2 separate regions of the Homo sapiens genome follow, and region 2 is linked to region 1. Evidence: fine-mapped expression QTL. Tissue or cell type: NK cells. Region 1 holds a variant in brackets; the other region holds the start of a gene. All regions are shown on one strand. Distances are from middle to middle.

Evidence for each region. PIP is the estimated chance that this variant, and not a neighbour inherited with it, causes the effect.
Region 2: USF1 starts here. The variant in region 1 is fine-mapped to the expression of USF1 in NK cells (Gilchrist 2021, PIP 0.95).

The regions. Positions count from the first base shown.
Region 1 is chr1:161,138,902-161,144,870 of GRCh38, forward strand. It overlaps LOC124900457 (small nucleolar RNA ACA64), which reads right to left and starts at 2,435; the gene lies at 2,307-2,435. The variant C/CA (reference allele first, on the strand shown) is at 2,719.
Region 2 is chr1:161,043,544-161,048,543 of GRCh38, forward strand. USF1 (upstream transcription factor 1) reads right to left here and starts at 2,434. Exons shown (of 11, transcript NM_007122.5): 1 at 2,315-2,434. ARHGAP30 (Rho GTPase activating protein 30) reads right to left here. Exons shown (of 12, transcript NM_001025598.2): 12 at 3,403-5,000. The coding sequence ends at 4,172. RefSeq lists enhancers at 1,234-1,463, 1,523-2,403, 2,002-3,201, 2,314-2,793, 2,404-3,284.

The sequences.
Region 1 (5,969 bases):
TAGAGTAAAGCAGATCTGTTCTCTTTCTTGATCTGAATACTCTATTAAGGCTGCTTGTCCTAGTCCATGTTCCTTCCCAGGTCTGCCAGATTAATCTTTTCAAACCAGATATTCCCTTAAGAAGTCTCTATCTTGCTAGCACTAGCCCCTTGTCACAAGTATCCTCTTGACTCTTCCAGGGCCACTCGGATCCCTGTGTCCCTACCAGGGCTTTACTCTTCTGCTTTACTCTGCAGGGACTTGCTGACCTGATGATCTGCTCTATTCTTGGTTTCCTATTAACTCTAAGCTGCCCCAGTTACTCATTTTCATCCAGGCATTATACTACTGGCTCCTCCTAATTTCAGTTCAGCTTGGAACCTAGCTCTAAGTCCAGAACTAGAATTTATTGCAGTTCTGGCTTCTATGGCTCCCGAATAAAAGAGTAGGGACCTCGGCCACACATGGTGGCTCATACCTGCAGTCCCAGGACTTTGAGAGGCTGAGGCGGGTGGATTGCTTGAGTCCAGGAGTTCAAGACCAGCCTGGGTAACATGGCCAAACCCTGTCTCTACAGAAAAAAATACAAAAATTAGGCATGGTGGCATGTGCTTATAGTTCCAGCTACTCAGAAGGCTGAGGTGGAAGGATCACTTGAGCCTGGAAAGCCGAGGTTGCAGTGAGCCAAGATCGCACCACTGCACTCCAACCTGGGTGACAGAGCCAGACCCTGCTGCCTCAAAAAAAAAAAAGAAAAAGAAAAAAGGAGTAGGGACCACAATCAGTTGCTGAATCCTAGTGATCTGCTGTTCAAGTCGCCTCAACCTGTTCCCTTTTCTTCATTCCCCAGCTCTGACCCTCACTAATATGACAGGCAAGTTCCTTAACTTCTCTAAACTTGTTTTCTTATCTGTGAAAGAAATATAACATCCACCTTACAGATCATTGTTTTAATGATTATATTAAATGATGTATAGAAAGTGTTGCACAGGGCCTAGTGCTGGATAAATGTTACCTAATATTTATTATTGTATTATATATAACAAGTTTCACCAGGTTTCAGAAATTCAGCAGGCTCTTTATCAATGACTCTTTGCTGCCCCCATGGGGATGACTTTTTCCAAGTCATTGGTTATTCCAAAGACCGTAACATAAAACAACCCTGTCTCACCAATCCCACCAGTTAATTAGAGAATTAACCAATTTTTCTTTGGGTGGTTGTTCAATTAAGTAAAAATGCTCTTATATTCCAGACCATTCTTTTTCAAATAACATAACAGGCTGGGCGTGGTGGTTCATGCCTATAATTGCAGCACTTTGGGAGGCCAAGGCAGGTGGATCTCTTGAGGTCAGGAGTTCGAGACCAGCCTGACCAACATGGTGAAACCCCGTCTCTACTAAAAATACAAAAATTAGCCGGGTGTGGTGGCCCGTGCCTGTAATCCTAGCTACTCAGGAGGCTGAGGCAGGAGAATCATTTGAACCCGGGAGGCAGAGGTTGCAGTGAGCTGAGATTGTGCCACCGCACTACAGCCTGGGTGATAGAGCGAGACTCCGTCTCAAAAAAAAATTTTTTTTTAAATAAATAAATAACAATAGGCCGGGCGCAGTGGCTAACGCCTGTAACCCCAGCACTTTGGGAGGCCGAGGCGGGCAGATCACGAGGTCAGGTGATCGAGACCATCCTGGCTAACAAGGTGAAACCCCATCTCTACTAAAAACACAAAAATTAGCGGGGCGTGGTGGCGGGCGCCTGTAGTCCCAGCTACTCAGGAGGCTGAGGCAGGAGAATGGCATGAACCCAGGAGGCAGAGCTTGCAGTGAGCCGAGATCGCACAACTGCACTCCAGCCTGGGCAACAGAGCAAGACTCTGTCTCAAAAATAAATAAATTAAATAAATAAATAAATAAACAATAATAAGGTTATCAAAAGGTTGAAAGTAAAATTATAGGAAAAGATAAGCTATGCAACATAAACCAAAAGAAGCTTATGTTAAAATCAGACACAGTTGACTTGAAGGCAAAAAGCATTACTAGAAATAAGGACATTTTATACCAATAAGTTTAATTCACCAGGAAGTTAAAAAATAAATTTATTTATTTATTTATTTATTTATTTATTTATTTATTTATTTTAGACAAACAGCTTTATTTGAAAGACGGGGGACAGCCAAGTCCCCCTGACCCTGCGGTCCTGGCAACGTCGGTCTCAGGCGTAGGAGGACCAGTGTCCTGCGGAGAGAAAAATAGGGTTAGGGGTCTGCAGCCGGGGTCAGGAGTCAGGGGTCAGACCACGCGAGCAGCCACACCCGGGGGGAGGCCGCGGCCCCTGTCGGGGCCTGGGTTTCACCGTCGCACATGGCGGCAGCACGCGGTGAGCTGAGGCCCCCGGAGGCTCTTGCGCGCCGAATTTCACCCGCGGCCACGGCCAAAACCGGGGGTGATTTTCAACCAACGCCGGAAAACATTTCTAAATTTGTATGCACTTAACAAAACCTCAAATAATATACAGCACCGAGCTACAAGGAAAAATAGACAAGTTCACAATCATCGTAGGAGATTTAGCACACCTCTCTCAATTAATAGAGTATACTTCTTTCAGAACTGATAGAAAAAGTCAGGGCCAGGTGCAGTAGCTGATGCCTGTAATCCCAGCACTTTGGGAGGCTGAGATGGGAGGATTGCATGAGGCCGGAGTTCAAGACCAGCCTGGGCAGCATAGGGAGACCCTCATTTCTA[C/CA]AAAAAAAAAAAAAATTAGGGGCGGGCGCGGTGGGTCACGCCTGTAATTCCCAACACTTTGGGAGGCCGGGGCGGGCCTGAGTTCAGGAATTCGAGACCAGCCTGGCCAACATGGCGAAACCCCGTCTCTACTAAAAGTACAAAAATTAGCTGGGTGTGGTGGCGGGCACCTGTAATCCCAGCTACTCAGGAGGCTGAGGCAGGAGAATAGCTTAAACCCGGGAGGCGGAGGTTGCAGTGAGCCAAGATCGCGCCACTGCTCTCTAGCATGGGTGACAAGAGCAAGACTCCGTCTCAAAAAAAAAAAAAAAATATGCTGAGCATGGTTGTGCATGCCTATAGTCCCAGCTACCCAGGAGGCTGAGGTGGGACGATTACATGACCCCAGGAGGTTGAGGCTGCAGTGAGCTATGATGGCACCACTGTACTTCAACCTGAGAGACAAAATGAGACCAACTCTTTCTCTAAAAAAAAAAAAAAAAAAAAAGAGAAAGAATAAGAAAAAATCAGCAAGGATATAGAAAATTTAAATAACACGAGCAGTAAATTTGATTCAACAAGCGTATAGAGTCCACTATACCCAACGACTTCAAATTACAAAGCACATGTTCAAGCACATTTGGAACATTTAAGAAACTGACCAGATTGTTCTATAAAGCAAGTTTCAACAAATTTCAAAGGCTTCAAATGATGCAAAGTATGTTTCTTGCCTACATTACAGTGAGGCTAGAATCAGTAACAAAAAGGTAACTGGGAAGTCCCTATGTTTACAAGTTAAATACAGCCGGGCACAATGACACATGCCTGCAGTCCCAGCTACTTGGAGGCCAGAGGATCCCTTGATTCCAGGAGTTTAAGGCTGTAGTGTGCTGAATACATTTTTAAATGACCCACAAAATAAATCACAATTGGAGTTAGAAAATATTTTGACCTGAGTGATAATTTAAAATGTCACAAAGCATTCCGGGCACCATGGCTCAAACCTTTAATCCCAGCACTTTGGGAGACTGAGGCAGGTGGATTGCTTGAGGTCAGGAGTTGGAGACTAGCCTGACCAAATGGTGAAACCCCATCTCTACTAAAAATACAAAAACTTAGCCGGGCGTGGTGGTGGGCACCTGTAGTCCCAGCTACTCAGGAGGCTGAGGCGAGATAGTCACTTGAACCTGGGAGGTGGAAGTTTCAGTGAGCCGAGATTGCGCCACTGCACTCCAGCCTGGGTGACAGAGCGAGATTCTGTCTTAAAAAAAAAGAAAGAAAGAAAGAAAAAAGGGCCGGGCGCGGTGGCTCACGCCTGTTAATCCCAGCACTTTGGGAGGCCAAGGTGGGCAGATCACAAGGTAAGGAGTTTGAGACCAGCCTGACCAACATGGTGAAACCCTGTCTCTACTAAAAATACAAAAATTAGCCGGGTATGGTGGCGTGTGCCTGTAATCCCAGCTGCTCGGGAGGCTGGGGCAGGAGAATCGCTTGAACCCAGGAGGCAGAGGTTGCAGTGAGCGAAGGTCATGCCACTGCACTCCAGCTTGGGCGACAGAGTGAGACTCTGTCTCAAAAAAAAAAAAGAAAAAAGAAAAAAAAGAAAAGAAAAAAATGTGCTTAGAGGAAAATACATAGTCTTAAGAGCACATAAGAAAAAAGAGCCTGGATGTGGTGGCTTACACTTGTAATCTCAGTGCTTTGGAAGGCCAAGGAAGAAGGATTGCCTGAGGCCAGGAGTTTGAGACCAGCCTGGGCCACATAGGGAGACCCCTGTCTCTTTTAAAATAAGTAAGTTAATAAATAAATAAAAATTTTAGGATGAAAGAAAAGCTGAGAATTTGTGAGTTCTGCATCCATCTCAAGAACCTAGAACAGTGAATTACACTGAAAGGATTTAGAAGATTGGAAATGTGTACATAGAGATGTCTGGAAGAATATATACCTAAAATGATAGTGGCTTTTTAAAATCTCTTGGGGTGGTATTTTTGGGTTAATTTTATTTTTCTCTATTGTTCAAATAAGCTAAAACAAATAATAAAGCCATTGTAATTTTTGGGGGTAAAAACACTAATGGAAATTTTTTTTTTTCTAGACTGAGTCTCGCTCTGTCACCCACGCTGGAGTACAGTGGCACAATCTCAGCTCACTGCAACCTCTGCCTCCCAGATTCAAACGATTCTCCTGCCTCAGCCTCCCGAGTAGCCGGGACTACTGGCACCTGCCACCACACCCGGCTAATTTTTGTATTTTCAGTAGAGACGGGGTTTTACCATGTTGGCCAGGCTGGTCTCGAACTCCAGACTTCAAGTGATCTGTCTGCCTTGGCCTCCCAATGTGCTGGGATTACAGGCATAAGCCACCGCGCTGGGCCTGAGGAAAATTTTTAAAAAATAATCGAGACTGCTGTTATGGTGACACCACCACGAGAAGCTACAAGCAAAATACTGATAACCTCATATGTGAAAATTTTTCATATTGTTTAAAATATTATGAACAAAAGAAAAGACAAATAACAAACTGGGAAAAATATTTACAACTCATCACAAATGGCTAATCCTTTTAATGTTAATATTTAAAAAAAAATACAAATCAGGTCAGGCACAGTGGCTCATGCCTGTAATCCCAGTACTTTGGGAGGCTGAGGTGAGAGGATCACCTGAAGTCAGGAGTTCAAAACCAGCCTGGCCAACACGGAGAAACCTGTCTCCATTAAAAATACAAAAAGTAGCCGGACGTGGTGTGGGCACCTGTAATCCCAACTACTCGGGAGGCTGAGGCAGGAGAATCGCTTGAACCCGGGAGGTGGAGGTTGCAGTGAGCTGAGATTGCACCACTGCACTCCAGCCTGGGCGACAGAGCAAGAATCTGTCTAAAAAAAAAAAAAAAAAAAAAAAAAAAAAAAAAAAAAAAAAGGCTGGGTGCAGTGGCTCACACCTGTAATCCCAGCACTTTGGGAGGCCCAGGCAGGTGGATCACGAGGTCAGGAGATGGAGACCATCCTGGCCAACATAGTGAAACCCTGTCTCTACTGAAAATACAAAAATTAGCTAGGCGTGGTGGCAGGCGCCTGTAGTCCCAGCTACTCAGGAGGCTGAGGCAGGAGAATCGCTTGAACCTGGGAGGCGGAGGTTGCAGTGAGCTGAGATTGTGCCACTGTACTCCAGCCTGGGCAACAGAGCGAGACTCCATCTCAAAAAAAAGAAAAAGAAAAAAAAGACGGGGCATGGTGGCTCATGCCTGTAGCACTCCCAAATCCCAGCACTTTGGAG
Region 2 (5,000 bases), 96 kb before region 1:
AGTGTTCCCCATCCCTCCATTATCACTCCAACTCCTGGTGGAGAGTGGATAATTATACTGGAAGACAGAAACAACACTTTTTTTTTTTTTTTTTTTTTGAGACAGAGTCTCTCTCTGTCACCCAGGCTGGAGTGCAGTGGCGCGATCTCAGCTCACTGCAACCTCTGCCTCCCAGGTTCAAGTGATTCTCCTGCCTCAGCCTCCGGAGTAGCTGGGATTACAGGTGCACACCACCACGCCTGGCTAATTTTTGTATTTTTAGTAGAGACGGGGTTTCACCATGTTGGCCCGGCTGGTCTCGAACTCCTGAGAGCATGATCTGTCCACCTCGGCAGCCTCCCAAAGTGCTGGGATTACAGGTGTGAGCCACTGCACCTGGCCGAAACAACACATTTCTTTCTTTTTTTTTTTTTTTTTTCTGAGACAGAATCTTGCTCTGTCACCCAGGCTGGAGTGCAGTGGCACAATCTCGGCTTACAACCTCCATCTCCTGGGTTCAAGTGATTCTCCTGCCTCAGCCTCCTGAATAGCTGGGATTATAGGTGCCCACCACCACGCCCAGCTAATTTTTGTATTTTCAGTAGAGATGGGGTTTTACCATATTGGCCAGGCTGGTCTGGAACTCCTGACCTCAGGTGATCCGCCTGCCTCGGCCTCCCAAAGTGCTTGGATTACAGGCATGAGCCACCGCACCCAGCCAACAACACATCTCTAAATGGATCATTAAAGCTATTATGACCTGCCATGATGGCAGCTTCATGGGAATCAGGAAGGGCCATGTATTGGCCCCACCATCAAAAAATACAGTGTCATGGACACTGATGCTTCTTCCAGTTTCTCAGCCACATGTTGTCCATCAAGACATTTCTGTTTTCAAACCTAGGAAGAGGAAATCTGAAGCCCACTACCACTGGAAGAATATCCCTGACCACAAAGACTAGACTTGGCATTTGGGCCCCATTCTACTGACAGGACTCTTGTTTTGGGGTATCCAGATTTATATAATCTGTTAGAAACCCTAAAGCCCAAGTGGATCCTCTTCAAGCATTCTCTATTTTATTCATCAAGCCTTCCTGCAGAACAACACTGTTGCTAAAATGTTGCTATGACAACTCCAAATCAACTAAGCCTGAGCAAGAAGGGGTAAAAAAAAAAAAAACAGGGTTCTGAAGAAGAGACAAAGGGGGAAGAATCCACCTACAAGCTCTGCCTTAGGACCCTGACACCCAGCCAGAGGGCAGGAAAAACAAAGAGCTGGGCAGACATGCCTCCAGAAAGAAACAGCTACACAGTACAAAGCAATAAGATAATCCCAACACAAAAGGGGCAAGATTTTTGGAAATTCTCTACCCATAAGGTCCTCCAAACCTTTCCTATCCAAGGAAAATTTTCAATGGATAAGCCTCGGAAAGACCGCGTCCGAGGAAAATGTTGAAAAAGGAACTGAAAGTGAAACCGTACAGACGAAGTAACGCTGCAAGGAGATCCCAGTCGATAAGGGGAAGTAGCACTAGTGTTTTGGGACCACCTACATTTCCATCTTCAAACCTGAAGAGGAAATGCCCTGCGAAGCTTGCCGCGCTGACTGCAGGGGAAGGCAATGAAATAGAGGGCCCGGCACAGGAGGCATCTCTATTGGCCACAGCTGTCAGCCGGGGCAGTCTCTGAGGACACCCAGCAACGGGGTCAGGGTACTTATTCAAATCTTAGTTGGACATCCGGAAGCATTTCCTAGGCATTAGGGATCGGTGACACGGAAACAGGGATGGGACGTTGTGGTGTGCACGCTCAGGCCAGAAGGGCCCAGTAAGAGCCCTTGCTAAGTCTGGACACAAAGGGAAAAAAAATCAACTCCCGAAAGAAGTCAGGCACCTAGACCTTGCCTTAGAATGAGGCGTCTCCCTGCAGGCTCACCAACCAGAAGGCGCTTACGGAGCTGAGCGCCCGCCAGGCGCGAGCCCGGGAGCCTGCGCCGTGACCCCGCAGCCCCGCAGTCTTAGCCCCGCGCCCCAGCTGCTCCGCGGAGGAGGCAGGAAAGGGCCTCGGGGACTAGGGAGCTCAAGCGCCCGGTGCCGGCGGCTGCGGCGCGCAGCTGGACAGCGCAGGAGGGCTGGGACGCTCGCGCTCTGGGGAAGGGAGAGAGTTTGGCCCACAAAGCAGGGTATGAGATAAAGAACCAGCACAGCCCCCTCCCCCAAAACAAAGGCTTCCTCCCCAGCAGTGTTCTCTAACTTGAAAAACGGAAACAAAATCAAAGCTGCCCTGCCTTGCCAGTCCACCCAGTTTCCAGACTTCTGCCCGGTCCTACACTCACCGGCCAAGGCCGTCTCAGCTGCCGATTTTCTCCAACTGTGTTCTCCCTCTCCCGGCCTAGGTATCTCCATAGACAGCTGCTCATGCGCACTTCCAGCCCGCGGCCATGTTGGTGAGGGGCGGAAGTGTCGCTCTCGCCCCGCCCATAAACTCAAACTCAGAACTGCCCCACTTCCGCTCACTCCATCTTGATGAGAGTTGGTGTTTGTGGGTTATTTGTGAAGCCGGAAAGAAGCCGTGTCCTGGAGAATGTAGCTGAAGGCCTGGCCACTTTCGACAAGAACGGGAAAGAGACGACTAACTTGTACTAATATCTTAGTGCTTGGCAGGGCATTTTTTCATTCCAGGAAAGAAGAGAATCCAGCTGAGATCAAGGGAGGGACGTCCGACGGAGGCGCCATCTTTAACAAGGGCTATTTGGGAGGCCATCTTGGCGCAGGGCGTCTTTTTGAAAGGTTACCTGCTAGAGATTACGACCTATCGGGGCATGCATAGAATTGGATATGTTCCTTGTTATTCGCGTCAGCAGTCACTCATCCAAAGACCCCAAAGCTTCTAGTGTTCTAAAGGCTCACACCTTCTGTGACAGGAATCTTGATTCCCATTCTTCTCAATCAAGACCTACCCTGAATGGATTTGGAGTAGTGTGGTATAATGGGAAAAATTCAAGCTTGGGGGCCAGGCAGATCCAGGTTTCAAACCCATCTCTGCCACTTCTTACCTCTGAGACCTTTGGCAAACATTTTGACTTAATTGAGCCTTAGTTTCCTCATCTATAAACTGGAGATACTAGCACCAACCTTCCAGAATTGTGTGGATTAAATAAAATCAAGGACATAGATTTTGTGAGCACAGGATACTTAGTCCAGTTCCTGGCACATAATGAACGCATTATGTAAATATAAGTTTCTCTTCCTTATTTCCTGACCACCATGAACCTAGCTCTAGTTTCTGGCCACTAGTCTCCATGACAACAACTGAGGAAGAGCACCCAAACAAGAAGAAGAAAAAGAATGTTTTGCCAAATATGTGAAGATATAATACCTATCACCAAAGACTTTAATAAGAATAATGAGACTCCACACTATGTGTAAAAATACAGCTTTTATTCTGAGACATTGACCTTCACTAGAGTGGGACCTGTGGCCCCAGCCTGGCTGGAGAAGCAGTCCCAGGGCCTGAGTGACACCATTTCCCTTTCCTGAAATAGGAACAAGTTATTCCAAAGGAGAAAGGAGAGCCCAGAGAGATCTGTACAGGACCTCTCTTGCACATGGTGACTGGAGGCAGAGGGTGGGGAGCTGGAGAGGAGTCCAGTCCCTCCAACAAATATTGAGGGCTTCAAAGAGCTCTTCCTGGACGTTTCTCTTAATCTGGATTTAAAAGGGACAGGAGGTATCTTAGGGTCCAAGAACATAACAGGAATGGGCAACTCTAGAAGTGTTTGTGTGTGGAAGGCCCTAACCTGGCCCTGTCCTCCCTGTCTCTACCTTTGGCTTTCATGAAGAGAGATTCACAGCTCAGAGGAAGGGAGGAATTTCTCCAGTCTTCACTTTAACAAACTCTTTTAAGTTTTCTGCCTACCTTATGTTCCCTTTGGCCAATGACCCACTCCCTGGGAACAAGATCTTGTTGACTTTCTTGGGAATCTCCTAAGAGATAAGTGCTTTGTGTCGGAGACAAGTTCAGGTAAACCAACCAAGGCAGTGCCTCCCACAGTCAAAGAGAGAAGCTGGAGGGCCAAAGCCTATAGAGTTGGGCACTACAGCTGCTCATGCTGCAGAGGAGACAGCTAGTCAGGAACCCTGGAGATTCAAGACAACTTGCTGGTCCCCTTTGCCCAGGGCTGTGGTCCTAATCACAGTCCTTCACCTTTCCCAGGGTTAGCCTGTGTTTCAAATGCATATGACCTGCGCTGAGAGGACAACAGGGGGTCAGGAACCTGGGGTTCTCTGGGGGGCAGACTAAGACGACTCCGGGATCCAGACCCTTCTGCACCTTCAGATGGGAGCTCCAGGCAGCTAAGGGGCCGAGGAGAATGGGCAGAGATCATGCTACAAGGGGAGGTTCTGGGGATGAGGCAGTAATCCCCACCCTCAGTACAGGTCTGGGTTCGCCGAACTCCTTGAGCCTCAGTCCTTTGGCGGTCCCGGGCTAGGGCCACAGCAGCATCAAAGGAAAGACTACCCCCATTCCTCCAAGAGGATCGAGAAGCTCGGGACCCCCAAGCCCTTTCTCCAGGAGTCCCATCAAGCCGGCCAGGCCTCGGGCATGGATTTGCAGGTGCCACATGAATCTTGCTACACATTGCACTGGGCATCTTGGCAAACTGTGGCTTGGGGGGCACCACAGGCACAGAGCGGACCTGTTGGACCTGAACCAGAGTGGAAGCTAGACGCATGCCCACGCCACCCAGGCCAAGAGAACAGGGGCATAGACAGCCGTCTGGACTGGGCTGCCCCTCAGGCTCCATCTCCTCTGGCTGAGGTGGCTGTGGGGCTACCTCTTCCATCTCAGAAGAGTGAGGATTGCCCTCTTTGGCACAGTCAACCTCCAGGGACGCTACACCTGAACCTTCAGAGAGGGTGTCCTCTTCTAAATAGTACCCTCCAGCCCTCTGGTCTCCCTCAGCCTCTCCATCCCCACTCTCCCGTTCCTTGCTGACCTCCCCTGCTCCTCCTTCAGTT